4 linked regions of the Homo sapiens genome follow. Each later gene encodes a partner of the first gene's protein in a complex. Each region holds a gene or a part of one and is shown on either strand. Other genes may lie near its edges. The genes, in order: DPM2, DPM3, PIGQ and PIGP.

Region 1 (7,837 bases):
TAAATCCAACCCGGCCAAGCTGGCACAGGGGAGGCATGGCAGAGGGGTGCCAGGGCCTCCAATGACTCCCAGCTGTGAGCTCCATTGGGTAGGAAGCACATCTGTCCCAGTCCCTGCTTTATCCCCAGCGCACAGGGTCAGGGCAGAAGGCCCCCGAGTCACCCCTACTGTACAGGATCTCCTGACCCAAGACCGCTCCCAGCCCGCTCCAGCCCCGACCCTGGGTAAACACGGCACAGAGACAAACACACCATCAGTGTTTATTGGTCAGCTGTCCCAAACGGGCCAGCCCTGGGGCTTTGGGGCTGGGCCTCCGTGAGGAGAGGTCAGTCGGTCAGCGGCCCGGGGTGGCTGCCCTGAGCCCCAGGGCTGGTCCTGGGGTCTGTCAGTCCTTCCCCAGGCTTTCCAGGTCCAGAAGGCTTTGTGGGGTCTGGGGCTGTGTCAGGGTAAGGAAAGCTGCCTTGGTGGAGGAAGAGAAGTCAGAGAGGTCACACATGTGGCCTTAGAACCTGCTAAGTCCAACGTCAGCATGTGACAGGAGGGGAAGTGAGGCAAGACGGCAGAACCCAGGGGAAAAGGTGGCAGGGAGTCTGAGAGTGAGGTTGGGAGGACCAGCATCTTTTAGGCCCTGAGCAAGAAGGAGGTGACCGGAGTCTTCCAGGTATCCCTCCCTCCTAGCTTCTGGAAGTGGGAGTCGGGGAGGGGGCTCCAGTCAGTCAGGTGTAAGCTCCATGCCATGGGGACTCTGCAGGACAGGCAGGCTTGAGGAGCCACTGTGCCTGGACAGGTTCTGCAGGCTCCCCCACTTGGTCCCTGTGCTGGAGGGGAAGCAGAGAAGGGGCTGGCAGCCTCATCCCTGCGGGACCTTCACTGAGCCTTCTTGGTCACTCTCTTGGTCTTCAGCATCACATAGGAGATGAACAGTCCTGGGATACACAGACCAGAAAGGCCACATAAGATCTAAGCTCAGGGCTGCTGGGAGGCCAGGGCATGACACAGCAGAGCCACCCACACACAGGGCTGTGAACCTACCCAACCATCCTCCAGGGAACCTGCTTATCTCCCTAGTCATTCGTCAAGGCATATGTCTACTCACATTCACTCAACAAACACCAACTGAGTGCCTGCCTCAAGCAAGATGCTGCATTTAGTGTTTCAGATTCCAAGGGGAACAAGATCCACCCATCTATCGATCACCCGGTCAACCACTTGTCTGTCCACCTACATACCTACCCACCTCCTCCTACACCTCACCCACCCACCCATCCATCCACCCATCATCCAGGCACCCGGCTGTTGACTGACTCATCCAAATGACTTTCTGAGCACAGCCTCAGTGCCACAGCCTGTTCTAGATGTGCAGTAATGATGGAGACACAGTCCCCATCCCTAGGAAGCCATGAGAGAGAGAGGTGCAGGAATTAGAAGCCAGGGTGACAAGAGGGTGACTGAGGTGTGAGCAGAGTGATGATGGGGTTGGGGCAGGAAAGAGGTAGACAGGTCATTGGAGTCCAAAAAGCCTGGGGCACCAGGAAACCCAGAGGTTACTGACTGGCAGCCTCGAAGGATGAACAGGAAAACCCCACGGGTGAGTTCGGGGCAAGCAGCTTCCAGCACCGCCAAAGTGTGGAAGCATGTTCAGAGGTGGGGTCTTCCCGAAACCCTGCCCAGGGTCAAGGGGAGGAGGTGATGACTTACCCACAAACAGGAGCAGCAGGAGGCCTGCAGCCAGTGGGATGGCGACAGCATAGGCTCGGGGCAGGAAATACTTGTGGATGACATGCTGACTGTCGATGAATGGCTGGCATCGAGGGAAGAGCTCTGGTGTGTCTTGCTTGCCTTGCCGAGCCCCCAAGCCCAAACGTCCCACCTCCTCCATCTAAGGGGCTGACCCATTCAGAGGACTGGGACTGCATTTGCTTTTCTTTAAGATTACGGCATTTGGGTGTCGTGGTTTGTTTCTTTCCTTAATTTCTTATTGGTATTTACCGGGCACTTGCTTTGGTGCCTGCTATAGGTTGGTGGTGGGGACAAGAGAACAGGGCACAAGAGACCTGCCCTAAGGCACCTCACAGCCTAGCAAATGGTACTTGAGGAATCCTCGACTGACTCCCAACCTGGGCCTCCAGGGCTTCTTCACTAATATTTTTTCTCTAAAGGATACCAAGTTCTGCACTTCCAGACACACTGCACTTCTTAAGCAATAACCAACAAGTTTTCCCACAAGAAAAAAATATCCTAAAGGCCTTCACAAATATCACTGGCGTTTGCCATGCCTAAGAGTCAGCAGGCTAACCCAGAAGGAACAGAACTCCCCCAAAAGTCAAAGCAAGCCGGAAACAGAGTTATAAGTGTAGCGGCTAAGGATGCAATCTTGGGCCAGATCCTTCTCCCCTAGCCTCAGCTATCTCATCTATAAAATGCGGTACCACTGGCATCTTCCTCATAGAGTTGTTCTGGAGAGTTCAAGAGATGAGGCAGGCAATGAAGCCAGCGCCGTGCCTAGAGCCTATATAGTAGTTGCTCTGGCGGTGCCAGGGCTCGGGGAAGGTGAGCAGCGGACGGGGAGAATGACATACCAAGAGAATCACCCAGGCGGTGTAGTAGGTGAAGATGATCAGGCTAACGGCGACGAGGCCGAGTCCCACCACCTGGTCTGTCCCCGTGGCCTGGAGAAAAGGGAGGTCTCAGCTGACGAAGTGACCCTCTATTTCGGCGCACTAATGGAAGCGGGGCGTCGCGGCCCGATCACGGTCTAAGCTTCCCATTCAACAGATGGTAGAGGGCTGACTAGGGATCAGTTTCTAGGCTGGGAGAGAATGCTAGGCCTCCGCGTTGTCGTCCGTACAATAGTGGGGGCGGGAGAGCAATCCCCGTTCCAAGTGCCCATGCCCCAGCTCCTGAGCAGACCCGGGACCCCACCCCCAGACGCCCCTATCTCCGGCACACGGTGCCAATCTCACCATTTCCCCGCGCGCTCAGCCACCCGAGCCGCAAGCCACATCCGGTTCCGGGTCCACGCTCTTCCGGCTTTGGACTGCGGAGCACGCCGGGAGTCGTAGTCCCCAGGCCTGCTCGGGCCCACCTCGTCGGAGACGAGCAGGAACCGCCTCCTCTTCTTTGCATATCGGCGAAGTGTAGTTCTCAAGAGCATTGTGGGGCCGGTTGCTGCCCGAATCTCTCTAGGGAATGGGACCGAGTTGGGGACCCAGACTCCCTGGCCTTCATGGCCACAGTCCTGTCGCCGCCCCACCAAAAGCCAATCTCTAAGTATCCCAGAGTCCCGGGGCCAGAGTGGGATGGGAGTGCGGGATCGGAAGTTCCATTTTTCAGATGGGAAAAGTGAGGCTCAGAGAAAGGTAGATCCCATTCCGAGTCAGTGGTGAAGCCGACACGGAAACCGGGTGCCCTACTTAGTCTGTAGGTGGGAGAGGTGCAGAGAACGTTCACTTTCCAGCCTAGGGTGGGCGGGGGAGGGTCTGTCCCTAGCCCGCATGGATGGGGAGGATTTGGTGGAGAGGAGGCGCCCTCCTCACCATCGCCCGGCCTCCCGGGCCACCCTTCGGATGTCCCCTCCCTTCCTTCACCGACTGTCTCTCGCAGCAGCCCAGACACGTTTCGGACCGGGACCCACGCACAGGCCCCTCCCCGGTCTTGGAAGGCCCTTCCTCTGAGAACAAAGAGATGTTGGGCCAGATCATCTTCCACGCTTCTTCAGCTCCGAGATAGGAACGCGGTCCCCCACCACTCACAGGCCGGCTGCTCCTCACCCATCCGGTCTCACTGGGACGCCACGTTCCTCAGGGAAGCCAGTCGGGAACGTTTTTTTTGTTTGTTTGTTTGTTTTTGAGACGGAGTTCTATGTTATCCAGGCTGGTGTCGAACTCCTGGGCTCAAGCGATCCTCCCAACTCGGCCTCCAAAAGTTTACAGGCGTGAGCCACGGTGCCCAGCCTCCTGTGCCTTTTAATTCACTGATGCAATTGTTGATCCAGCCCTGTCAGCCCCGAGGGTAGGGTCTGAGGTTGCTGCTGTATCCCTGGCACTCAGTGGAGGCTTGGCCCAAAGAAAGAGGTTTTTTTGTTTTTTTTTTTTTTTCCCAAGACGGGAGTCTCACTCTGTCACCCAGGCTGGAGTGCAGTGGCATGATCTCAGCTCACTGCAACCTCTGCCTCCTGGGTTCAAGCGATTCTTCTGCCTCAGCCTACCGAGTAGCTGGGATTACAGGCACGTGTCAACACGCCCAGCTAATTTTTGTATTTTTAGTAGAGATGGGTTTTCACCATGTTGGCTAGGTTGGTCTCAAACTCCTGACCTCAGGTGATCCACCCACCTCAGCCTCCGAAAGTGCCTGGATTACAGGCGTAAGCCACTGCGCTCGGCCCAAAGTAAGAGCTTTGAACCTGTCAGCTTTAAGATTGAGTGATTGTTTAGATACTGGAGTACAGCATCTGGACTCCAGGCCTCCCTGAGGGGTTATGTGGAGGCCTTTGGCCTGCTGTCCCCACCTGGGGAGTTTGGGGAGAGATGTGCTTTGAGCCTGGCATGGTTCGCTCCCTCTGGCATTTATCTCCTTGGTTGGTTGGAAGCCCATCTCCAACTATGGAGTCTGCCCTCCCAAAGCTGACAAGAGCAACTTTTTTTTTTTTTTTTTTTTTTGAGACGGAGTCTCGCTCTGTCACTCAGGCTGGAGTGCAATGGCGCGATTTTGGCTCATTGCAACCTCCACCTCCTGGGTTCAAGCGATTCTCCTACCTCAGCCTCCTGAGTAGCTGCGATTACAGGCACTCACCACCACGCCCAGCTAATTTTTCTATTTTTAGTAGAGATAGGGTTTCTCCATGTTGGTCAGGGTGACTTCAGGTGATCTGCCTCCTGCCTCAGCCTCCCAAAGTGCTGGGATTATAGGCGTGAGCCACTGTGCCCGGCCAAGAGCAACTTTTTTAAACCTACAGTCCAATTCTTTTCCCTTATCTCTCAGGAGACTTTGGGCTCACCTAGGAGCCCACTTTTACCTCCTTCCTCAGTTGTGCATATAACAGAGGAAGGGGCAGAATCGGCCTTCAGGGTTTAAAGGGGCCATGAGTCGGGGTCAGCCCTGAGGAGGAGTGGGGTGAATGCTATCCCAGGATAGAGATGGAGCCCTGGTGGCCTGATTCCTCCTGGCCTGGCCAGTACCACTGAAGCTTCCCAACACCTCCAAGCTTATTAAAGAACCAGAGTGACTTGCCTGTCCCAGAGAGACTTGGGATGGTCAGAAACGGGGGTGAGGGGCCCGGGGCAAGCCAAGCCTGTAAATGATGGCAGCCTGGGGCTTTAGTTTGGGAACACACTCACACCTCCTACAGGTCAGGCTGCACACTCGTGTTATTTGATAACCCCATCTGCAGGTGAGGAAACTGAGGCGCAGTTATTTGTCCTCAGGCATGCTCCTTAGAGGCCACTTGATTGCAGAGAAGGTCTACAGAGCAGTGGTTAGAACTTGGCCCTGAGGACAGAGCTTTTGCTCCGTATGAGGCTGGCAGGTAACGATCTTCTCAGTTTTCTCCCCAGGAATCTGGAACGATGAAGGTGATGATTGTGCCTGTGGCCAAGACCGGGAGAACCCTGGATCCCTACACCTTCCCCACCCCTGGAATGTCACTATACATATCTGACTTCTTCTGATGTTGCCTTTGACCCTAAAGTCAATATGATAAAGTAACAAGGTAAAAACAAAACAGCAAAAGAAACAAAAACCGAAACATTTAATTTTTTCTCCCCAAACCAAGACGCTGACACTAGCCTGAGTTCCCCTAACAATGTTATTTTCTACAACAGAAGCTGGGACAGAGGAACAAACACAGCCCACTCAAGCAGTGGTGGCAACATTCTGTTAGAAAGGAGGGGAGTCAAAGAAAAAAACACCCCTCCGCCCATCTCCTTATCACCTCCCTAAAGACAGAGGAGAACATGGACACCCTCCATCCTGATAGACATGCCATGTGGTCAGTTTGTGCGGTAAACAGGAAAAAAAAAAAACCTAAAGATATTGTAGACCTTTATTTTCTTTAAATCTCCTAATAAAAACATTAAACTTTCAAGAAGATTCCAAACTGACATTGCATAGACCAACTCCTTTCCAAAAATATCTCTGATATACTCTCCAACTCTCTCAATATATAGAATTTGAAGTCCAGGAGCTGTGGGCACCTGGTGGGAATTCACTGAGCTCAAGGGGACAAGAGGGCTGAGGACAGGGCTCCCACATGGGGACAAGGCCAGGCTTTCTGGCCTCTGGTTCCAGCCAGCATCAATTTGGTTGTGGCCAAATTCTCAGTCCAATCACCCTGGCCCAGGGCCTGGCGTGGGAGGATGTGGCAGGCTCTGTCTCCTTCTGGGGTTCCTGGTCTGGAGGAGTCTCCCCAACAGCGCCAAAGCTGGCTGTTTTCCACCCAAAGCCCCAGAACTTTGAATGAGAGGCAAATCTACCCTGAATGCACCTCCCTCCTAGGCTGGGTGAGGTCACGCAGACACAGAAGGGCAGGACAGAACTCCCCATCTTCTGGGGGCCAATTCGTCTGGACACTGTGCGGTCAGCTTCCTTTTTAAAGTGCCAGTATCGGTGGGGCAGGAAGGGACTCTCAGGGCTGAGCAGAGCCTTCTCCAGCGCGAGCGAACACTCTGTCCCGCCTCGGCAGGCACCTTCTAACATTCATTTTCTAAGGGTTAGGTGAGTAAAACAACAACAAATGCTGGAAATGCTCTGTTCCCAATGCCAGGGAGTTCCAAGACCAAGAAGCCCAACTCTCACCAGCGGGGGCAGATGGGGAGCTAGGGAAGGAACCCTCCCAGCCTGGGGAGGGCACCTGCACCCCTCCCAGAGAGAGAAGCCCCCATCCCGGCCCCCCAGCTGGGCCCCAGCGCTGCTGGAACCAGCCGGCAGGTGGGGCAGAAAAGCAGCACCTCCCCTCACCAGGGCGAGGAGGCAATATTGAACCGTGAACTCAAGAAGAAAGACGGAAAGAAAAAATGAAAAAAGCTACAGGGCTAAGTAAACACCAGCCTGCTGGGTTTATACAAAATGAGTGAAATTTAAAAGGGGCAGGAGAGTTTGTCCAGGGACTGGCTGGCAGCCAGAACCCACCTTCAAGCAAGTTACAAGGACTTGGGGGAAAGTGCTGAGAGCAGAGGCTTTAGTAGGGGGCAGGGCCAGACTGCTCCCCACTGGGAAAGCACACCCCTTAAAGGAGCCCTTCCCCCTTGCCCAGAACGGGGGATGCTTCCAGAGGAAGGCTGAGGCTTTTCTGGTAAGGAAGCCAGCTCCGGACCAGTCCAGCCACAGCCCACCTGCCTCTCTGGCATCCGCCCCAGTCTGGGCAGCTGACCCTGAGGGCAGAGAAGGACTTTGCTTGCTCCAACCTTCCTGCAGGAAAACCAGCTGCTCAGGACCCAGCCCTGGGCAGAGGGCACGGTCGGTGCTCAGACCTTTCTCAGCACGGGTCTCAGACCTGAGCTGGAGCTAACTGGAGGAAGAGGCAGCACCCGTTCCCGCCGGGCTGCTGGACCCTGGGCCTCTGACTGCACAGCAGGCAGTGACCAGGAGTCCTTGGGAAGGAGCTCAGGGAAGGGGAGGTGAGGGGCCAGTGGGACTGTGCTGGGGGTGAGCATGTGCAAAGTGCAGGCTGCAAGGCAGCGGGAGGACATTTGCCGGGGGGAGGCAGGGGTCTCGATCTGGAGTGTGGGTGGGGTCTGAGGTCATGGCTCCCAGGAAGAGGCCGCCAGCAGGTCCCCCAGGACACAAGGAAGGGACAGCTGAAGCACTAAGCAGTCAGACAGTCACAGGTGGCAGGATTCCG
Region 2 (5,710 bases), on another chromosome or scaffold:
GAAAGTGCTAAGAATATAGTTTTGGGTCCAATGAAACAGCTTTGCTGTTTACTATCTGCACAACCTTGAGCTAGTTACTTACCTTTTGCCCTCTCTGTGTCATGGTTTCCTCATTCATACATGGGAATAGAAAAGTACCTACTTCATTCGGCTGGGTGCGGTGGCTCACGCCTGTAATCCCAGCACTTTGGGAGGCCGAGGCGGGCGAATTGCCTGAGGTCAGGAGTTTGAGACCAGCCTGGCCAGAGTGGTGAAACCCCATCTCTATTAAAAATACAAAAATTAGCTGAGCATGGTGGCAGGTGCCTATAATCCCAGCTACTCGGGAAACTGAGGCAGGAGAATCGCTTGAACCCGGGAGGCAGAGGTTGCAGCGAGCTGAGATTGTACCACTGCACTCCAGCCTGGGCGACAGAGCAAGGCTCTGTCTCAAAAAAAAAAACAAAACCCAAAAAACAGAAATACTTTATAATTTATTATCTATCCTTATATGTGGTGGTGTAAGCCCCTAAAATGTTCTGGGGAGTTTCAGGGCCAAGTCTACTGTGTATGAATAAAATGGACTTTCTGGATCTGCATCTGCAATGCTCGTGTCCAGCCCCTGTAAGTATACCAATATTTGAAAGTCATTGTGACCAGTGAGTCCTTGATTGAGAAACCAGAAAGATTTGGTGTGGAAATGGAAATGTGGCTAGGGCTTTGAAGGTCGTATAGCAGGTTTAAAAACATTTTTTTTTTTTTGAGACAGAGTCTCGCTCTGTCACCCAGGCTGGAGTGCAGTGGCACAGTCTCGGCTCACTGCAACCTCCGCCTCCCGGGTTCATGCCATTCTCCTGCCTCAGCCTCCCAAGTAGCTGGGACTACAGGCACCCGCCACCACGCCCGGCTAATTTTTTTTTTTTTTTTGTATTTTTAGTGGAGACGGGGTTTCACCGTGTTAGCCAGGATGATCTCGATCTCCTGACCTCGTGATCCACCCGTCTCCACCTCCCAAAGTGCTGGGATTACAGGCGTGAGCCACCGCACCCAGCCTAAAAAATGTTTTTCGCTAGGAGCGGTGGCTCACGCCTGTAATCCCAGCACTTTGGGAGGCCGAGGGGGCGAATCACCTGAGGTCTGGAGTTTGAGACCAGCCCGGCCAACAAGGTGAAACCCCAACTCTACTAAAAATACAAAAATTAGCCAGGCATGGTGGCAGGTGCCTGTAATCCCAGCTACTCGGGAGGCTGAGGCAGGAGAATTGCTTGAACCCGGGAGGCGGAGGTTGCAGTGAGCCAAGACCGTGTCATTTCACCCCAACCTCGGCGACAAGAGCAAAACTCCGGCTCAAAAAAAAAAAAAAAAAAAGTTTGGGCTGAGCGCGGTGGCTCACGCCTGTAATCCCAGCACTTTGGGAGTCCGAGGTGGGAGGATCACAAGCTCAGGAGTTCGAGACCAGCCTGACCAACATGGTGAAACCCTGTCTTTAATAAAAATACAAAGATTTGCTGGGTGTGGTGGTGCGTGCCTGTAGTCCCAGCTACTTGGGATGTTGAGGCAGGCTAATCGCTTGAACATGGGAGGCAGAGGTTGCAGTGAGCTGAGATCATGCCACTGTACTCTAGCCTGGGCCACAGAACGAGACTCTGTCTCAAAAAAAAAAAGAAAAGTTTTTATTTGTTTTAATTTTTACTTTAACAAAGGAATTTGTATAGTTTTAAAAGCCAACTAGTTCAACAAATATTTTTCGGGGTGGCGGGGCATTTTCAAGTGAAAACCGGGAAACCTGCTCAACAAATTCTGAAAGCTGTAACTTCGGTGGGCGCCGTGGCTTACGACTGCAATAGCAGCACTTTGTGGGGGCTGAGATGAATTGCTTGAGCCCAGGATTTTGAGACCAGCCTGGGCAACATAGGGAGACCCCGTCTACACACACACACACACACACACACACACACACACACACACACACACTAGATGGGCGTGGTGGTGGTGGCCCACTTCTGTAGTCCCTGCTACTCCAGAGTCTGAGGTGGGAGGATAGCTTGAGTCCAGGAGGTCGAGGCTGCAGTAAGCCATGTTTGCACCGCTGCTCTCCACCCTGGGCAACAGAGCAAGACCTTGTCTGAAAAAAAGAAAAAGAATAGAAAAAAAAAGAGCTGTAACTCTACAAGGCTTTTAATGAAAAATAACCATCCCCTGCTCCTCTTCTTTAACCCTTACATATACAACCTACATATACAACTACGCTCCAGTTTCTAGGCTGCTTCTTCTGGTACTTATCTGTACATTTCTTCAAGCAACACTCCCACCTAGGCCTCCCAAAGTTCTGGGATCACAGCTCCACTGTCCCCAGCTCCAATTTTTAGTTAAATCAATACTTAGTGTTTACATCGTTACGGCTGTGAAAATTTTCTTCACAGCTGAGCCATTTGTGTTTGTGCTAAGACTGTGAATCTGTAAAAACTGCTTTTGTTAATTAACATCCAGGACATACGGCTGAGAAACTTCATTTTCTAAAATCATAGTCACAAACTTTGCTATTTGAAATCAGTCAGTGCGAATGGAACATCCTACTCTTGCCAGAAGTTCTGAGCCACGTGGATTACTTTGGCCTCCCAAAGTGTTGGGATTACAGGCACGAGCCACTGTGCCCAGCCTAGATAGTGGGTTTTTGGACACTATATTCTATATTTATCTTGACTTTGTAATTTCCAAGTGGTCCCTCAGCTTGGACTTCTTGATCCCTTCACTTAAAGTTATGCTTACCTCGAACCGATCAAAACACTGTTTCATTTAAATTTTAGCTAGCCTATAGTATCAGCCACTTGGGAGGCTGAGGCAGGAGGATCACTTGAGCCCAGAAGTTTGAGCTTCGCCTGGGCAACATACCGAGACTTCAACTCTAAATAAATAAGTAAATAAATTTTAAAATATAAATTTTAAAGTCAAGCCTTTCCCATATCCTGTTGTATTAGTTCATTTTCACATTACTGATAAAGACATACCCGAAACTGCAAACAAAAAGAGGTTTAATTGGACTTACAGTTCCACATTGCTGGGGAGGCCTCAGAATCATGGCGGGAGACAAAGGCACTTCTTACATGGCGGTGGCAAGAGAAAAATGAGGAAGAAGCAAAAGCAGAAACCCCTGATGAACTCATCAGATCTTGTGAGACTTATTCACTATCATGAAAATAGCACGGGAAAGTCTGGCCCCCGTGATTCAATTACCTCCCCTTAGGTCCCTCGCACGTGGGAATTCTGGGAGATACACATCAACTTGAAATTTGGGTGGGGACACAGCCAAACCATATCATCTGAATGACCATATTTCTTCCTTTTTAATGAGTTGCCCCACAGTTCTTCTAGTGTGTGATCTCTCTGTTGTGGCAAGTTAATAAACCTAACTGTCAAACTACAGATGTGGTCTTTATAAGACAGGCTTATCAATTGTCTTTCCTTTCTTATATAACTCTTTGTTTCCTCTGAAGTTGATAATTGCCTAACCTTTTCTCTTACTTTGTTCTCTCTCTCTCTTTCTCTCTATACATAATAAATTCATCCCCAAAACTGTTCTAAAGAATTATACTCTTTCTTTCAATGCCTTCACCACTTCAGGTAATTCTTCTGGTCTTTCTTTTCTTTTCTTTTTTTTTGAAACCCAGACTCCTGGAGCCCTTCTTCCTCTGGCTCCAAGTTATATTGGTTGTTGTCCTTGTAAAAATATGACTACCTCTGTTCTAACAATAATCTCAAGCCTTCATGGTTAGTTGTCAATGCAACTGCTTCACTGACTCCTGCTTTCCCCCTCCACCTGAAAGGGGTCGAGTCTCTTGACATCTCTGTATCTCCAAAGTCTATCATGGTAATCAAGAAATGTTCTGGCCGGGCGCTGTGGCTCATGCCTGTAATCCTAGCACTTTGGAAGGCTGAGGTGGGCCAGTCACTTGAGGTCAGGAGTTTGAGACCAGCCTGGCCAACATAGTGAAATCCCCGTTCTCTGCTAAAAATAAAAAAATTAGCCCGGCGTGGTGGCGCGCGCCTGTAATCCCAGCTGCTCGGGAGACAGAGGTTGCAGTGAGCTGAGATCGAGCCACTGTACTCCAGCATGGGCAACAGAGCGAGACTTTGTCTCAAAAAAAAAAAAAAAAAAAAAAAAAAAAAAAAGGAGTTCTGTCCCGCCTAGGCACTATAGAGAGACCCTGTCAAGAATGGAAAGAAAGAAATCTTCGAATGAATGAACTAGTGAATGAAGGAATGGATTTCAGCGCTGGAGAATTGAGTTTAAGGGGAATGGTATTATATTCCCATCTTGTTGCAACATTTAAGGATGTCCTCAAGCCCCACGCCAGCCTGGAGCGTAGCCCAAGGTGGGAAAGCAGCGCCGAGGCCTCTCCAGACCCGGCCTGCTCCCCGTTTGCGGAGCACAGCCCACTGTACCCCCGCCTAGATTGAGGCGCTGGCCAGGAGTACACCAGGCGCCGCCATGTGAACTACAACTCCCAGAAGGCCGCGCGGAAGCGGAACGTGAACCAGGGAGGACTTCCGGACGCCAACATCCGGGCCGCGCGGGGAAGGGGAGACGTGGGGTAGAGGTAAGTGTAGGTTGAAGGCTGAATGGGGAGGGCGAGAGATGGGGAGTGGGTCTCAAATATAGAGGGGGTAGCAAGGTGGAAGGGGCCCTTCCACCTTTTGTGGGCACTCAAGTTCGGACCTCTGGGATCGGCGATTCCCCTCTGGCCAGGGCTGGTTTTAATGCTCTCCGTGGGCGGGCTTCGGTTGAGTTTGGTCCGCTTTTCCTTTCTGCTCCTCAGGGGAGCATTGCTTCCTTCTCTCGCAGTGACCATGACGAAATTAGCGCAGTGGCTTTGGGGACTAGCGATCCTGGGCTCCACCTGGGTGGCCCTGACCACGGGAGCCTTGGGCCTGGAGCTGCCCTTGTCCTGCCAGGAAGTCCTGTGGCCACTGCCCGCCTACTTGCTGGTGTCCGCCGGCTGCTATGCCCTGGGCACTGTGGGCTATCGTGTGGCCACTTTTCATGACTGCGAGGACGCCGCACGCGAGCTGCAGAGCCAGATACAGGAGGCCCGAGCCGACTTAGCCCGCAGGGGGCTGCGCTTCTGACAGCCTAACCCCATTCCTGTGCGGACAGCCCTTCCTCCCATTTCCCATTAAAGAGCCAGTTTATTTTCTAACTTCGTTTAGTTTGAGTATGGAAAACGGGTATTGGGGATTCTATGTACTAACGGTCGAGAAGTGAATGTGAAAGAACCACCTTCTTGAGGCCATCTCAGCCTTTATCTTTGCATCTTGCTGGTGTTCCCATTTTTGCTCCCAAGGAGGCAAAGACCCCTTCTCAATATTTCTCAGGATGGAAATGACATTTCACTTTCCTGGTCCTTTCAACCCTGTAGGAAGTACTTCTTTTTTTTTTTTTTTGAGACGGAGCCTTGCTCTGTCGTCCAGGCTGGAGTGCAGTGGCGTGATCTCGGCTCACTGCAAGCTCCGCCTCCCGGGTTCACGCCATTCTCCTGCCTCAGCCTCCTGAGTAGCTGGGACTACAGGCGCCTGCCACCACGCCTGGCTAATTTTTTGTATTTTTAGTAGAGTCGGGGTTTCACCGTGTTGGCCAGGATGGTCTGATCTCCTGACCTCGTAATCCGCCCGCCTCGGCCTCCCAAAGTGCTGGGATTACAGGTGTGAGTCACCGCGCCCGGCGTACTACTTC
Region 3 (7,586 bases), on another chromosome or scaffold:
GATAGACCCCCACGGGCCGTGGCCAACGCTTGTCCCTGGGGCCACACAGGGACACTGGAGGTCACAGTTATTTATTGATCACAATTGTGGACATTAAAACAGAAACTGTTCACACACGCCGTCTGTGCCTCCTTCCTTTGGGGCCCTAGTGTAGCCACCTGGACACCCCCCTAAGGAAGTGTCCTGGCCTGGGAGGCCTGGGTGGGCAGCAGTCCTGCTGGGCCTCTGTCTTCAGACTCGGCCCTCTCCTGTGGGCTGGGCCCTCCCCGCGGGGCTGGGGTCTGGGGGTGGGGCGGGACATCGGCGACGGGAGCTGAGCCAGGAGAGCCGTGTGGACTGGGCTGCTCGGCCTGTGTCTTGGTGTGTCGGGGGTGGAGAGGCGTGTGGACTGGGCTGCTCGGCCTGTGTCTTGGTGTGTCGGGGGTGGGCACGGACCCCTGAACATCCTCTAGCCTCTGAATCCAGCAAGGCCGCGCTCATATCAGCTCTCCTGCGGTTAAACGGTGGCCCCGGGGCTCTGTGGCTGGAGGCTGCTCACCCAGCGTGGGCTCTGCTGGCCCCTGCCAGCCCCTGCAGCCGTGATAGGTATCAGCCTTCACAGCTCACTGCCTCCCTCCCAGCAGGGCCTGGCTTGGCCCTCCCACGGGCAGGGGATGGGCAGACAGGGAGGGGCACCCGGGACCCCCACAGCAAATCACTTCTCTCCTGGGAGAGCTGGCCACACCCTCCACGCCCACCCTGGAATGGGCTCTGGAGCCCACATCGCCCCCCCAGGAGGAGAAGCAGTTCCTGCCTGCGTCCAGCCGGGCTGGGGCCAGTCCAAGCAGGCTGGCAGCGGCCCCATTAACTACCAGGGAGATAGCATCAGCCCCGACCCTGCCTCGGGGCAGCTAGAGCTGGGGTGCTGCCTGGCCAGGCGCGGAGTGCTGTGGGGACAGGTCCCAGCCGGGCCCCTCTACCCAGAGGCTTCCTGGAGGGGCTGCAGGGGGCTCTGGGCAGCCAGGAACTGTTCCCAAGTCCCGAGTCTGAGGGAGACTCCCTGTCCTCAGCCCCCGCCCCCCATATGTCCACTGCACCCCATATGTCCACTGCACCTCAGTTTCTCACCCCCACTGAGCAGACAGGTGAGCATGGCCTTGCTGGGGGCAACAGCACCCGTCTCCCAGGTGTGGAGACACGACCTCCTTCGCTGTCACCCGTGGGGAGCAGGACAGGCCTCATGGAGGGTGCCTCAGCCAGCAGGTCACCCGCCTGTGGTCCAGACCCAAGGACCCTGCTTGGGGGTGGCAGCCTGGGGCTGCCTTGCCACTTGGAGTAATGAACTTGCTGGTTGTGGGGGGACCATGGGGGACCCCTGGAGGGGGGTGGGCTGCATGGCATCTGGCCGTGTAGGGGACGTGGGAATAGTGTCCGGGCAGAGGGCGCAGCCTGCAACAAGGCGCGGAGGCAGGAACACCACAGCATGGGGAGTCCTCAGGGGACCTGGTTTTTCTTTCATAGAAGCTTCAGGGGCCAAGGCCGGAGACTGCACTCTCCCTCCTCCACCCGGCCCAGCTGCGTCCCTGCCAGTGGCTCCTCCCACTTCCTCCAGTTCTAGTTTCCAACAACAGAGGCTGCAGCCACCCAGCCCCGAAGCAGGGCCCAGCGAGACAGGGCCCAGGTAAGAGACCCCTCCCCCCGGCCTCTCTCGGTGGGGCAGGTGGAGGCCCTCGGAATAGGCTGCCTCGCCCCTAAGGGGTCAGAAGTCTCCCTGACCTAGGGGCTCGGGTAGAAGGGCTGTGTGTGGGTGACCGCCCCCCCGCCGTAGAAAGGGGTTCCACAGGCAGATGGATTTGAGAAATGTTGCTTATCTGTCTGAGGCCCATGAGCTCATCTGGGGCTCAGGGGAAAACCCACAGCGAGCTCCACGGGTCATGTGTCTCCCAGACTCAAGTCCCAGGCACCTAGACACTAGGGTGGCCGCTGGGCTTGGTGGCCAGGTAGACCCTCAGGACCAGGAGGACCCGGCCTCATAGGAAGAAACTGGAGGAGTGACTTTGCCATTCCCACACACAGTGGGGCCTTATTCTCTCTCTTGCAGCCCCAAGCGTGACCCAGCTGCAGAGAAGCTGAGACGGTGATTCGGACTGACTGGACTCTGGCCTCCAGGTGTCTGCACCTCACACTGGACCCACCTGGAGACTCCACGGGCTCCCGGCAGCTCCGGCTGCTTGGGTGGATCCGGGTGCCCGCAGGGGCTGTGGGAGGGCCCCGGGGCCTGCACTGCTCCCCCGATGGCCTGCTCTTCCTCACGGCCGGGGCTGCACCCTGTGTCCACGTGCTAGATCTGGAGGGACGCCCCATCTGCCTCCTGCCCTGCCGCACTCCGGGGAGCGGGGCCTTCGTTCCAGAGGACGTGGCTGTGACAGCGTCAGGGCTTGTGGTGGTCAGCGATCCCATCCATGGGGCTGTCCATGCACTCCAGCACACAGCCCGGGACCCCGGGGGCCACTGGGTGACAGTGGGCACCTTCCTGTCTCCCCGAGGGCTGGCTGTGGATGCCCTCAACCGCCTCCTGGTGACGGACTACTTGCCTGGGGCTGTGCACAGCTTCTCGTTGGGTCCTGCTTGGGAGCCCCTGGCCCCAGCCTCCATGCTGGGTCTGGAGGGCCCCTGCTGGGTGGGCCCAGGGCCTGATGGGGGCCTTGCTGTGAGTGAGGAGTTTGGGGATGTGAGGCTGTTTGGCAGTGCCCGCCAACCCCTGGGCTCCCTGGGGGGCTGGACGGGGCACACTTTCGGCTGCCCAGCGGGCATCTGCTCCAACTCAGAGGGCAATGTTATTGTGGCAGACGAGCAGAGGCGCCAGGTGACCCTGTTTCCCCGGGCTGGGCCACCCATCTGCCTGGTGTCAGAGGGGCTTGGGCAGCCCTTGGGAGTGGCCTGTGCACCCCAGGGCCAGCTCCTGGTGGCTGATGCCAAGGACAACTCCATCAAGGTGTACCAGGGCCTCAAGGAGCTGGCCTGACCTGAGGCTGGGTTGGAGCAGCCCTCCTGTGCCTGAGGCCAGCTCCCAGGCCCTTGGATCACCGCGGGAGGAACCCTCAGGATGGGTGGAGCCTCCAGGCTATGGGCATTGCCTGCCTGATGCCAGCACCACCTGGGCTGGGCCCTGGGCTTGGCTCGAGTTCTCCTGCTGGTGAGGCTCCGGATCTCAGGAGCAGCCCTGAGTCTGCTTCCCAGGCTGCCCCTGCCAGGCCTGCAGCCTCCCCAGCCAGGGCTGCTCTCTGCTGTCCCCATTCAGTGCCCTGGCCCCTGCATTCATGCCCCCCACACCCCCTCAGGCCCTGTGCCTGGACTTTGGGGCTGGCAGCTGAAGCCTTGAGATCCTGGGCCAGCTGCCGGCACACAGCTAGGCAGACTCTCCCACCAGGTGCCCCTGCCCAGGCCTCCTAATCGGGGGCAGACAGGCAGGGAGGGTGTGGCTGGGCTGGGCTGGGCGGGGCGGCCTGGGGCAGGGGTGTGGCCCCTAAATGTCCCCAACCTCAGAGGGACCTAGAGTCCTGAGCCTCCAGTAGCTTCTCTGGGCCTGGCAGAGGTAAGGGGGAGGCAACCCTGGAGTGTCTGGAGGCCCATGGCTGGCTGAACCCTGGATGCCTTTTCTTCCGCGTCCCCATGAATGAAAGCTGTCTGGGCCTTCATTCTGCAGACAGGGACAAACAGCTCCATGCTGTTTGTCCTCCCAGTGCAGCCGTGCTGGGAGGGTCTGGGGGAGCTTCCTACAAGGAGAGACTCCTGCTGCTTTGGAAAACTGAGAAAAAATAGGGGTCTAACCCTCTCCTCCCATTTTACAAGTGGGGAAATGAGGCGTGAAAGGAGAGGCGTCTGGGTTACTCCGTGGGTCTGGGGTCCAGGGAAGGGCCTGTATGGGGGAGGGAGCTGGGAGGGGACGGTGTCTGGCTCTACCCCTGTGGGGTGGGGAGGTGGGGCTCCCCTGTATCACAGGACATCCCCCCTGAGAGGTCCCTCATATGTCTGGGTCCTGTGGGTGGGGGACTAACTGCGCAATGTAGTTAGGTGCTCAATAAACGGAGTTGCCGCTGAGGTCTGGGCTGGGGTCTTGTTCCTGGGATCGGGAGGGGCTGGACGCCTGTGTGTTCTCTCCTGACGATCGCTGGCGGCAGCCTCTGGGCTGGTCCTACCAGGGCTCAAAATTCCCGGCACCACTGGCCTTGGGGATCTGGGGGCGGCCCCTCTGCAGACAACAGAGTGACGGGGGCGGGACCGGGCTGGGGCTGGGGCCTTCCTGGAATCCCGCAGGGCCTGGGGACCTGTTCACTTGGGGAGGCTGGGAGCCAGGCGGGGTCCGGGTTCCACGAAGGCCAGGTCCAGTCAGTTTCTCAGGTGAGGAAACCGAGCTGACGCGGGGCTGGCGGCCCGGAGGCAGGCTCGGGAGGTCCGGGCCTGGGGACTGGGCGGGCACGCTGCGCCGCGGAACGCTCGGGTCGGGCGGGCGGGCGGGCAGCCCGGGCGCCTTTGGGGGCCGGACCGTCGCGCGGCAACGCGCGGAGCCGGCGGAAGTGGGGCTCGGGTCCCGCGGCGGGGCTGGAGGCAGCGAGCGCCGTCGTCTGCCCGGGCCCGCCCATCGGGGTCCCCAACCCCATCCGGACCCCGCCGCCCGAGCGCGCGGCCCCGGAAGCACCCGGTGAGCAGGGGGGGTGGGCGGCGCGCGGCGGGACCTCGGGCAGCGCCCCTGCGGCTCCGGGCCTGGGCTGGGGGCTCCGCACTCCCGCCCGCGGCGCCGCTGCTTTCTCCTCCCAGAAGTGGGGCCGCCCCCGGGCCCGCGCCGACCTGGGCCCCTGTGGACCCTGTGCAAGGGCGGTCGGCGGCCCGGGCCTGGCTGTGGGCCCTTCGCAGTTGTCCCGGTTTGCAGGAAAGGGCAAAAAACGGAATCGTAGGCTCTTCCCAAATGAGAGGGGAAGGCCCTGCTTGAGGAAGGCAAGCAAGTTTGTTTGTTTGTTTGTTTTGAGACGGGGTCTCACCATGTTGCCCAGGCTGAACTCGTGTTTGTTTTTCATTATTTATTTATTTTGAGAGGGAGTCTCGCTCTGTCGCCCAGGCTGGAGTGCAATGGCGCGATCTCGGGTCACTGCAACCGCTGCCTCCCGGGTTCCAGCGATTCTCCTGCCTCAGCCTCCCCAGTAGCTGGGATTACAGGTGCCCACCACCACGCCCGGCTAATTTCTGTATTTTTAGTAGAGACTTGGTTTCACCCCCATCGAGGCTGGTCTTAAGCTCCTGACCTCAAGTGATCCGCCCGCCTCGGCCTCCCAAAGTGCTGGGATTACAGGCGTGAGCCACCGCGCCAGGTTGGTGTTTATTTTTCAAACAAGGCGCTGGGAAACGCAAATTCTCCAGAGCTCTTGTGGAGCGGTGGCAGGGAGGGGCGGCTCAGCCAGAGATGGCCCTGGCCCGTCCTAACTGGGCTGGGGTGCCCCCATTCCCTCATTCACGGGGAGGAGAGGGAAGTCTTAGTCTTACTACTTTATATGGTCGACCTCCCTACCTGCCTGGTCTGGGAATGGCTTCTCAAGAGCACTCGGGCTCATTCTTAGCAGAGGAAGCTCTTCTGGCTAGCCTGGCGCCCGTGTGTGTGTGTGTGTGTGTGTGTGTGTGTGTGTGTGTGTGTGTGTGTGTGTGTGTGTGTGTGTGTGTGTCTGGCTAGCCTGGTGCCCGTGTGTGTGTGTGTGTGTCTGGCTAGCCTGGCACCCGTGGCTAGCCTGGCGCCCGTGTGTGTGTGTGTGTGTGTCTGGCTAGCCTGTGTGTGTCTGGTTAGCCTGTGTGTGTGTGTGTGTGTCTGGCTAGCCTGTGTGTGTGTGTGTGGCTAGCCTGGCGCCCGTGTGTGTGTGTGTGTCTGGCTAGCCTGGCAACCATGGCTAGCCTGGTGCCCGTGTGTGTGTGTGTGTCTGGCTAGCCTGGGACCCGTGGCTAGCCTGGTGCCCGTGTGTGTGTGTCTGGCTAGCCTGTGTGTGTCTGGTTAGCCTGTGTGTGTGTGTGTGTGTTTGTGTCTGGCTAGCCTGTGTGTGTCTGGTTAGCCTGTGTGTGTGTGTGTGTGTGTGTGTGTGTGTGTCTGGCTAGCCTGGCGCCTGTGTGTGTGTGTGTCTGGCTAGCCTGGTGCCCGTGTGTGTGTGTGTGTGTGTGTGTGGCTAGCCTGGCGCCCGTGTGTGTGTGTGTGTGTGTGTGTTTCCTCAGTCTTTAAAGATGCTCACGTTGCTTTCTCCCGTCCCATACCTCCTCTGCTATCGATCGCTTCTCTTTCATCTTCCTCTGGCTGTGTGATCCCAGCAGCTGCTAGTGCAGGCTTCTTTGTGCCGCCGACCGTCCCAGAGGCTGAGGTGGGAGTGTGATGGGCGTTTGCCCCACAGTACGTTGAGTTTTCTCTCACTACTCGACAGAGAAGAGTAGCTTCTGCCCTCCCATCTCCTTCGGTAGACACAAGGCACTTTTTTTTTTTAAGGTAAACTTTGTAGATGAAGCACAAAGAATACACACAAAGAAAGCGCACAGATCGTGAGCACGTAGCTCGGTGAATTTACCCAAAGTGAGCCCACCGCAGAACCAGCTCCCCCTAGAACATCTGTTTACTGTTAGACCCATTGTGTTTCTTTTCCGACGATATCTGTGGGCAGTTTTCCTTAGTCCCTGTGAAAGCTCTTCCCCAGCAGGGCGTGATGGGTCCCTGGGCTGAGCTGGTGTGAAAGGTGGGCTGTACTGGGTGGTCCCCTATGGTGGTCACACAGCCAGACACGCTGGGCCCCTTGCAGGCAGAATCACTTTGTCCCTCTCACGATGTCCTTGGTGCCTCACGTCAGCTGGCCTCCAGGCATCCACCCGCCGCCTGCCCTCTCTGACCACTGAGGAAATGGGCATTTGAGGAGTTCTGCAGCCTGACCCAGAAGGTCCCTTTTCAGCTAGAACCCACCGCCTTGAGTGACTGGATCCTCCAGCCCCAGTGCGGGCTGCCTGCAGGGGAGGAGAGCAGCTGCACCAGGGGCCTCTTAAGCCCCAGGCATTTCCGTGTGAGGCCTCTTCCAGAGCCCCTCCAAGCTTCGGGAGAGGACTTACAGGTCACACCACCCCGACGTGTGCATCCTGCTCTGTTCCCTCGTCCCTAAGGATGTGGTGGGCTCTGAGACCTCCAGGCATCCTGGTCTGTTCCCTCATCCCTAAGGGCGTGGTGGGCTCTGAGACCTCCAGGCATCCCACTCTGTTCCCTCGTCCCTAAGGGCGTGGTGGGCACTGGGACCTCCAGGCGTCCCGCTCTGTTCCCTCGTCCCTAAGGATGTGGTGGGCACTGGGACCTCCAGGCGTCCCGCTCTGTTCCCTCGTCCCTAAGGATGTGGTGGGCACTGCGACCTCCAGGCGTCCCGCTCTGTTCCCTCGTCCCTAAGGGCGTGGTGGGCGCTGGGACCTCCAGACCCAGGCTCAGGCCAAGCTATGTCCCTCCCTCGAGTGTGGCTCCAGCGTGGGGGGTCTCTGCTCAGGGTGGCCGCTCCACTCTTCGTGCAGGCGAGATGGGGCTTTCTGTGTCTGAGGAAGGCGAGCGGCCC
Region 4 (5,235 bases), on another chromosome or scaffold:
TGCCCAATGCCAGTCTTCTCTCTGTTCTTAGGACAAACCAAGTTCCTTCCCACCTTATGGTCTTTGCCTCACCTGCTTTATACTTAGATCCCAACAGCCTCTCTCTGAGAGGCCTTCCTTGACCACCCAATGTGAACTAGTCATCCCTTTGCATTCTAGAATACATTATCTTAATTCTTTGCATAGCACTCATCAAATTATATTTCCTTGTTTATTTGCTTAGTTGCCTCACCCTGCTTCTAAAACTATAAGCTCTTTGAGAGAGAATCTTACCATTACTTCATCCTCAGTGCCTAGAAAAATACCTGGTACACAGTGAGTACTCAACAAATATTTGTGTCTTAGACATGAATCTGATGGCACAAGTACTAACTGTACCCTTCCCAAAAACTAAGGGTTTGAATTCTGGGCCCCTCAGGACAAACAGGAGGAAGGACATCATTGCCCTTTGCAAATTACAATATAAATGCCTCTCTGGAGGAACTTCTTGATTATACTGACATTGATTTTTTTTTTTAAGTCTGCTATATGGGAATGCAATATTGTATTTATTCTATTCATTAACAATACTTGAACATTTACAATATTCATTGAACATAATCTAAGAGAAGGTCAACTTACATTTTTTACTTCTCTATTAATAAGAGAGATGGTCAAATTAATTTATGGTCAAAATTATAATGGCAAAAACTTATAAATAAATACGTGCTTGGTGTTACTATGGTTACACACAGTTCAGTTTTTGGTGTAAAGTTCTTTGGCTGCAAGAAAGAACATTTGGTTTACTTCACTAATAGAAATATCTCTTAAGGCTGGAATGGCCTCCTCTTGGTATTTCTTCTGCTGTTGATTTTTTGCATAGTTATCTGTAAGAAAAGACCAAAAAGCTCTGTTTACCTAAGCAATTTCTTCTACAGTCTCTGTGTCTGATGGAGACCCACCACATAGTTTACTAGGCTGACGTTTGGATAGTGACAAACATCATGTTTAACATAATTAGATGATTACTTAAATCCTCTCTTTAGAAGAAATGTCCCAATTAAAATAAAAACATCCCTGTCTCTACTAAAAACACAAACACACAAAATTAGCCTGGTGAGGTGGCGGGCGCCTGTAGTCCCACCTACTCGGGAGGCTGAGGCAGGAGAACAGCGTGAACCCAGGGGGCGGAGCCTGCAGTGAGCCGAGATTGCGCCATTGCACTCCAGCCTGGGTGACAGAGCGAGACTCCATCTCAAAAATAAAAAATAAAAAATAAATAAATAAATAAATAAAAATAAAAAAATAAAAACATCAGTAAAGTACTTTTTTCATCTCTAACTTGGAAAGAAATCAATATTTTAATCAACCATACAATGATGATTAAAGTCTCATTTGCACATTTCTCACGGGAACAGAATTATATCCAGGCCTTGAAAATGTATTTAAATCAACATGGCAAAACTATTAAATCATTTGGTATAAATATTCATGCAATCTTAACAATTTCCCCTCTTTGCACAAATTACCTATTTGCTGCCAATTCCAATCAAGAATGCATGGAATGCAGTGTATTAGAAAGACACTTAAAAATAATAGAATTGATTTTCAAAATACATTGTAGAGGCTAATATATAAAGGTTTTGAAAAGTTGAAAAATCATACCAGGGAACTTAAAAAATACTTTACTTTCTAGAATTTAAGCAAGCTCAGGAGTCTGATTTATTTTCATCTTTAGACTTGAAAGAACTTTAAAAAAATAAAACCAGACGAACGTGTTGTGGCTCTTTTATCCACTTAATTGGAATAAGGAGTACACAATGATCCTGAGGAGGATACACACCCCCAAAGTCCTTTTTCTGAACAAGGTCTGCATGTACTATTTACTATCCCTTGATCAACGGTGTCTGTTCAGGATAAGCTTCTCTCAGGCAAAGTTAATGGGAACATATTATAGACACATATAGCATATACTTGTGGTTTTTATGGGAACATACACCTGCTAACCAGTGCTATAATTAATTATAATTTATTTCCTCCATGAATATAGCTAGTGTGTATTCATCAGAACTTAATTCCTTCATGCAAATATTTCCTTTTATATAAGTTTGTATTTATTTCTCTTAGTAGCTTCTTTTTACTGTCCGTGTGTGTGTGTGTGTGTGTGTGTGTGTGTGTGTGTGTGTGTGTTTTCTTTTAGGATGGAGTTTCACTCTTGTCACCCAAGCTGGAGTACAGTGGTGGGATCTTGGCTCACTGCAACCTCTGCCTCCTGGGTTCAAGTGATTCTCCTGCCTCAGCCTCCCAAGTAGCTGGGATTACAGACGCGCACCACCAACATGGGTTTTGCAGCCTGTTCTTTGTTGCTTTTCTGGGTAAAAGTGCTAATACTCCACTCTTTCATTGCCCCAGCACTTTCCTTTTATATAAAGTTACCTGTGATTGTATGGATGGAGTCGAGTGGAGAGGTACTCATCATGTTAATCCCAAACAAGAGCACGTAGCCAATTACTATAGCAATAAGGAGGTAGACAGGTAATGCAACTGCCCAATATCTGCCAAAGAGAATATTAAAGTACATAATAGACACTTTAAAAAAGTTGTAATTCTCAAGAGTCGGTCACAAAGCCAACATGTTTTTTAAATTTAAATTTTATAAAGTAATATGTGTACATAAGAGACAAATAGTTCCACAAGGCTTACAGTGAAAAACTGCAGTCCTCTATCCCACCATCCCAACCCTGGGGTCTCACTCTCCAAAAAGAAATGCTTTGAGCACTTGAGCTGTCTTCTGGTACTTACCTCCTCATTGCTACAAAACATGCTCATATTACTATTTCCTCATTTTTTTCCATTACAGACATTTTCTCTAGGCTTCCTAATATGGAGATAAGGAATTAACCTCCTCCTATCCTCTTCTATACTTACATTGCAATTTCTCATTATAGCAGCAGGTTTTAGAAATAATTGTACCTACATAAACAATTTTGCAACTGAGGATCTTAGTACATTATTATTATATATTTTCTTGTACAACTTTTTTTTTTCTGGAATAATTACATCTTTTTGTCTGTTCACTTGGTTTCCCAGGAATCCACCAATACCAGAGCCTCAAATTCTCTGATAGGACTCTATTATGCCTCTCAGTATCATTATGTACATGGAGTGCTATTTTTCATTGAGTGTTTTTTTTTTCTTTTTGAGAAAGCATTTCCCTCTGTCACCCAGGCTGGAGTGCAACGGCATGATCACAGATCACTAGCCTCAATCTGCTGAGCTCACTTCAGCCCTGCAAGTAGCTGGGACTATAGGCACACACCACCACACCTGGCTAATTTTTAATTTTTTTGTAGAAATGGGGTCTTGAGATGTTGGCCAGATGTTTTTTTTTTTTTAAATGATTTGTTCTCTATTATTTTCTCTTTCTGGAACTTCTAATAGTTTGAATTTTTAACGATTATACTTTCTTATATTTTCATTTTTTTTTGTTCTAACTTCTAGAGATTACCTTTGTTTTATTTTCCAGTCTTTCAATTAAAATTTTAATTTTGGTTATCATGTTTACAATTTCCAAATACAGTAATTTCCTGTTTGCATAGCATTCTGTTCTTGTTTCATAGTTATAATTGTTTCTTACCTCTGAGAATTTTATGTTATTTAAATTTTTTTTTCTGTTTCCTGCATTATCTCTATTTCCTTCAAATTCCCTTTAATTTTCTGCTTTTTCATTTCATGCTAGAGGCTTTCTTTTAATGTCTGGTAACTTAGAGTAGTCCATTCATATTTAAAAATGAAGTGCTAACAAGTGAGTTGGAAGCACTATGTGTATGTGGGCAGGGATGGTCAACTGGTGAGCCTCACTCTGAGAGACTTGGCCACTTCACTGGGGTCCTCTAAATGTCAGAAATTATAGATCCTTTCTCTCGGGCTGGTCAGCTTCCTCAGGAAAGAACTATCTATCTTTTTCTGTGAGCAGTAGGGTGATATAAGCCTCGAAGCCCCAAGAGGGAAGATGGAGCAGGAGGTAAATCTTCTCATTAAGCCATGTAGATTTTCACTTACTTCCCTGTTTTCAGTAAGATGCCGCATTCCCACACTCAGACTTAGTGGCCCCCATGCTAGAGACTCTTACTTAACCTTGCCAGAGAGTAAAACTCCTGTTTTCTGCAGGGGAGGGCAGGGCAGGCCTCCCAGCTTTGAGGGCTGAGGGAGATTTGAAGGCTGAAGACTTCATATGGTCTTTAAACATGTTTTCAGTTCAACCCAGAATTAAAGAGCTACCTGGTACCCCAATGTCTGAGCTATTCTGGAGTTCTAAGGCACAAATATTCTTGCTGGCTTCCCTACTTCAGCAACGTGAAAATCACAGAAACAAAGGCAGTTACCTCTCACCTATCACAATCCACTTTCCAAAATGTGGTTGATATCTCTTTTCTGCTATACTATTGTTTCTGTGGTTTGTATCTTCAGTTTTTTTTTTTTTTCCTGTAGGGTCATTTTAACAAGATTTTTGGAGGAAATGGATGGAGATAAACATGTGTGTTCATGCTACCATCTTTAATTAGAGATGTATCAATAGCGATCTTTAAAAAGCTTTCAATTTCTATATGGCTATTCATGAATTTTAAGAGAACAAATATTTAAGATTTGGGTAGGTTTAAGAAATGATATGACTCCTCAAAACAGCATTAATTATATCCTCATTTAAGAAATATATTAAACTTACTTTTGAGGCCAATAGGTTAAACCTAAAGAGTTTAGCCAAGATTCAGGAATAAAGGCCCACACGAGGTAAAGTACTGTAGAAAAGAAAAAGAAAAAAAAGAGGAAGAGAAGTCAGTAAGACATACATCTAATCTATCAATCTATTAAGATTCAGATAAAACAGAAAAGCTCTTTTGAAGTGTCCCTGATTAACTCAGAAATGATTTTTTCCTCCTTTCAGTTCTTCTAGCTCGTTTGCACAATTCTTATAATACTTATAATTACTGTATTAGTCTTTTTTTTTAATATCTTAACTCACATTATATTTTAAGCAATTCAAGGATACAAATCATGGCTTAGCAATTGTTGTAATCCTTATTACCTAGCAGTTTGCTTTAGGTACAGTAAGTGTTCAATACTTCATCCCCACAAGGTTGAAGTAATTATAGACATTTAATTGCTCAAAGGGAAATTTACCTACCCTAGTTCTCATCCACCACATACTGAGCTTCTGCCCTATCTCCCAGAGTACAATGTTATTTCCCTCAATCC

Evidence for each region.
Region 2: DPM2 (region 1) and DPM3 share a complex: the UniProt entries of both Homo sapiens proteins name them as parts of the dolichol-phosphate mannose (DPM) synthase complex.
Region 3: DPM2 (region 1) and PIGQ share a complex: the UniProt entries of both Homo sapiens proteins name them as parts of the glycosylphosphatidylinositol-N-acetylglucosaminyltransferase (GPI-GnT) complex.
Region 4: DPM2 (region 1) and PIGP share a complex: the UniProt entries of both Homo sapiens proteins name them as parts of the glycosylphosphatidylinositol-N-acetylglucosaminyltransferase (GPI-GnT) complex.

What each region holds. Positions count from the first base shown.
Region 1 is NC_000009.12:127,934,855-127,942,691, forward strand, and holds DPM2 (dolichol phosphate-mannose biosynthesis regulatory protein), read right to left. Parts: upstream 3,001-7,837; 5' UTR 2,967-3,000; coding exon 2,964-2,966; intron 2,670-2,963; coding exon 2,580-2,669; intron 2,457-2,579; coding exon of another isoform or gene 2,361-2,456; exon of another isoform or gene 1,963-2,360; intron 1,925-1,962; exon of another isoform or gene 1,802-1,924; coding exon 1,699-1,801; intron 927-1,698; coding exon 868-926; 3' UTR 245-867; downstream 1-244. UniProt on the Homo sapiens protein: Regulates the biosynthesis of dolichol phosphate-mannose. Regulatory subunit of the dolichol-phosphate mannose (DPM) synthase complex; essential for the ER localization and stable expression of DPM1.
Region 2 is NC_000001.11:155,139,358-155,145,067, reverse strand, and holds DPM3 (dolichol-phosphate mannosyltransferase subunit 3), read left to right. Parts: upstream 1-4,536; 5' UTR 4,537-4,577; intron 4,578-4,660; exon of another isoform or gene 4,661-4,737; coding exon of another isoform or gene 4,738-4,827; coding exon 4,828-5,106; 3' UTR 5,107-5,177; downstream 5,178-5,710. UniProt on the Homo sapiens protein: Stabilizer subunit of the dolichol-phosphate mannose (DPM) synthase complex; tethers catalytic subunit DPM1 to the endoplasmic reticulum.
Region 3 is NC_000016.10:565,416-573,001, forward strand, and holds the start of PIGQ (phosphatidylinositol N-acetylglucosaminyltransferase subunit Q), read left to right. Parts: upstream 1-4,552; 5' UTR 4,553-4,681; intron 4,682-7,586. Other genes in the region: NHLRC4 (NHL-repeat-containing protein 4), read left to right, coding at 2,633-3,004. UniProt on the Homo sapiens protein: Part of the glycosylphosphatidylinositol-N-acetylglucosaminyltransferase (GPI-GnT) complex that catalyzes the transfer of N-acetylglucosamine from UDP-N-acetylglucosamine to phosphatidylinositol and participates in the first step of GPI biosynthesis.
Region 4 is NC_000021.9:37,064,847-37,070,081, forward strand, and holds the end of PIGP (phosphatidylinositol N-acetylglucosaminyltransferase subunit P), read right to left. Parts: intron 4,779-5,235; coding exon 4,706-4,778; intron 2,535-4,705; coding exon 2,416-2,534; intron 867-2,415; coding exon 736-866; 3' UTR 528-735; downstream 1-527. UniProt on the Homo sapiens protein: Part of the glycosylphosphatidylinositol-N-acetylglucosaminyltransferase (GPI-GnT) complex that catalyzes the transfer of N-acetylglucosamine from UDP-N-acetylglucosamine to phosphatidylinositol and participates in the first step of GPI biosynthesis.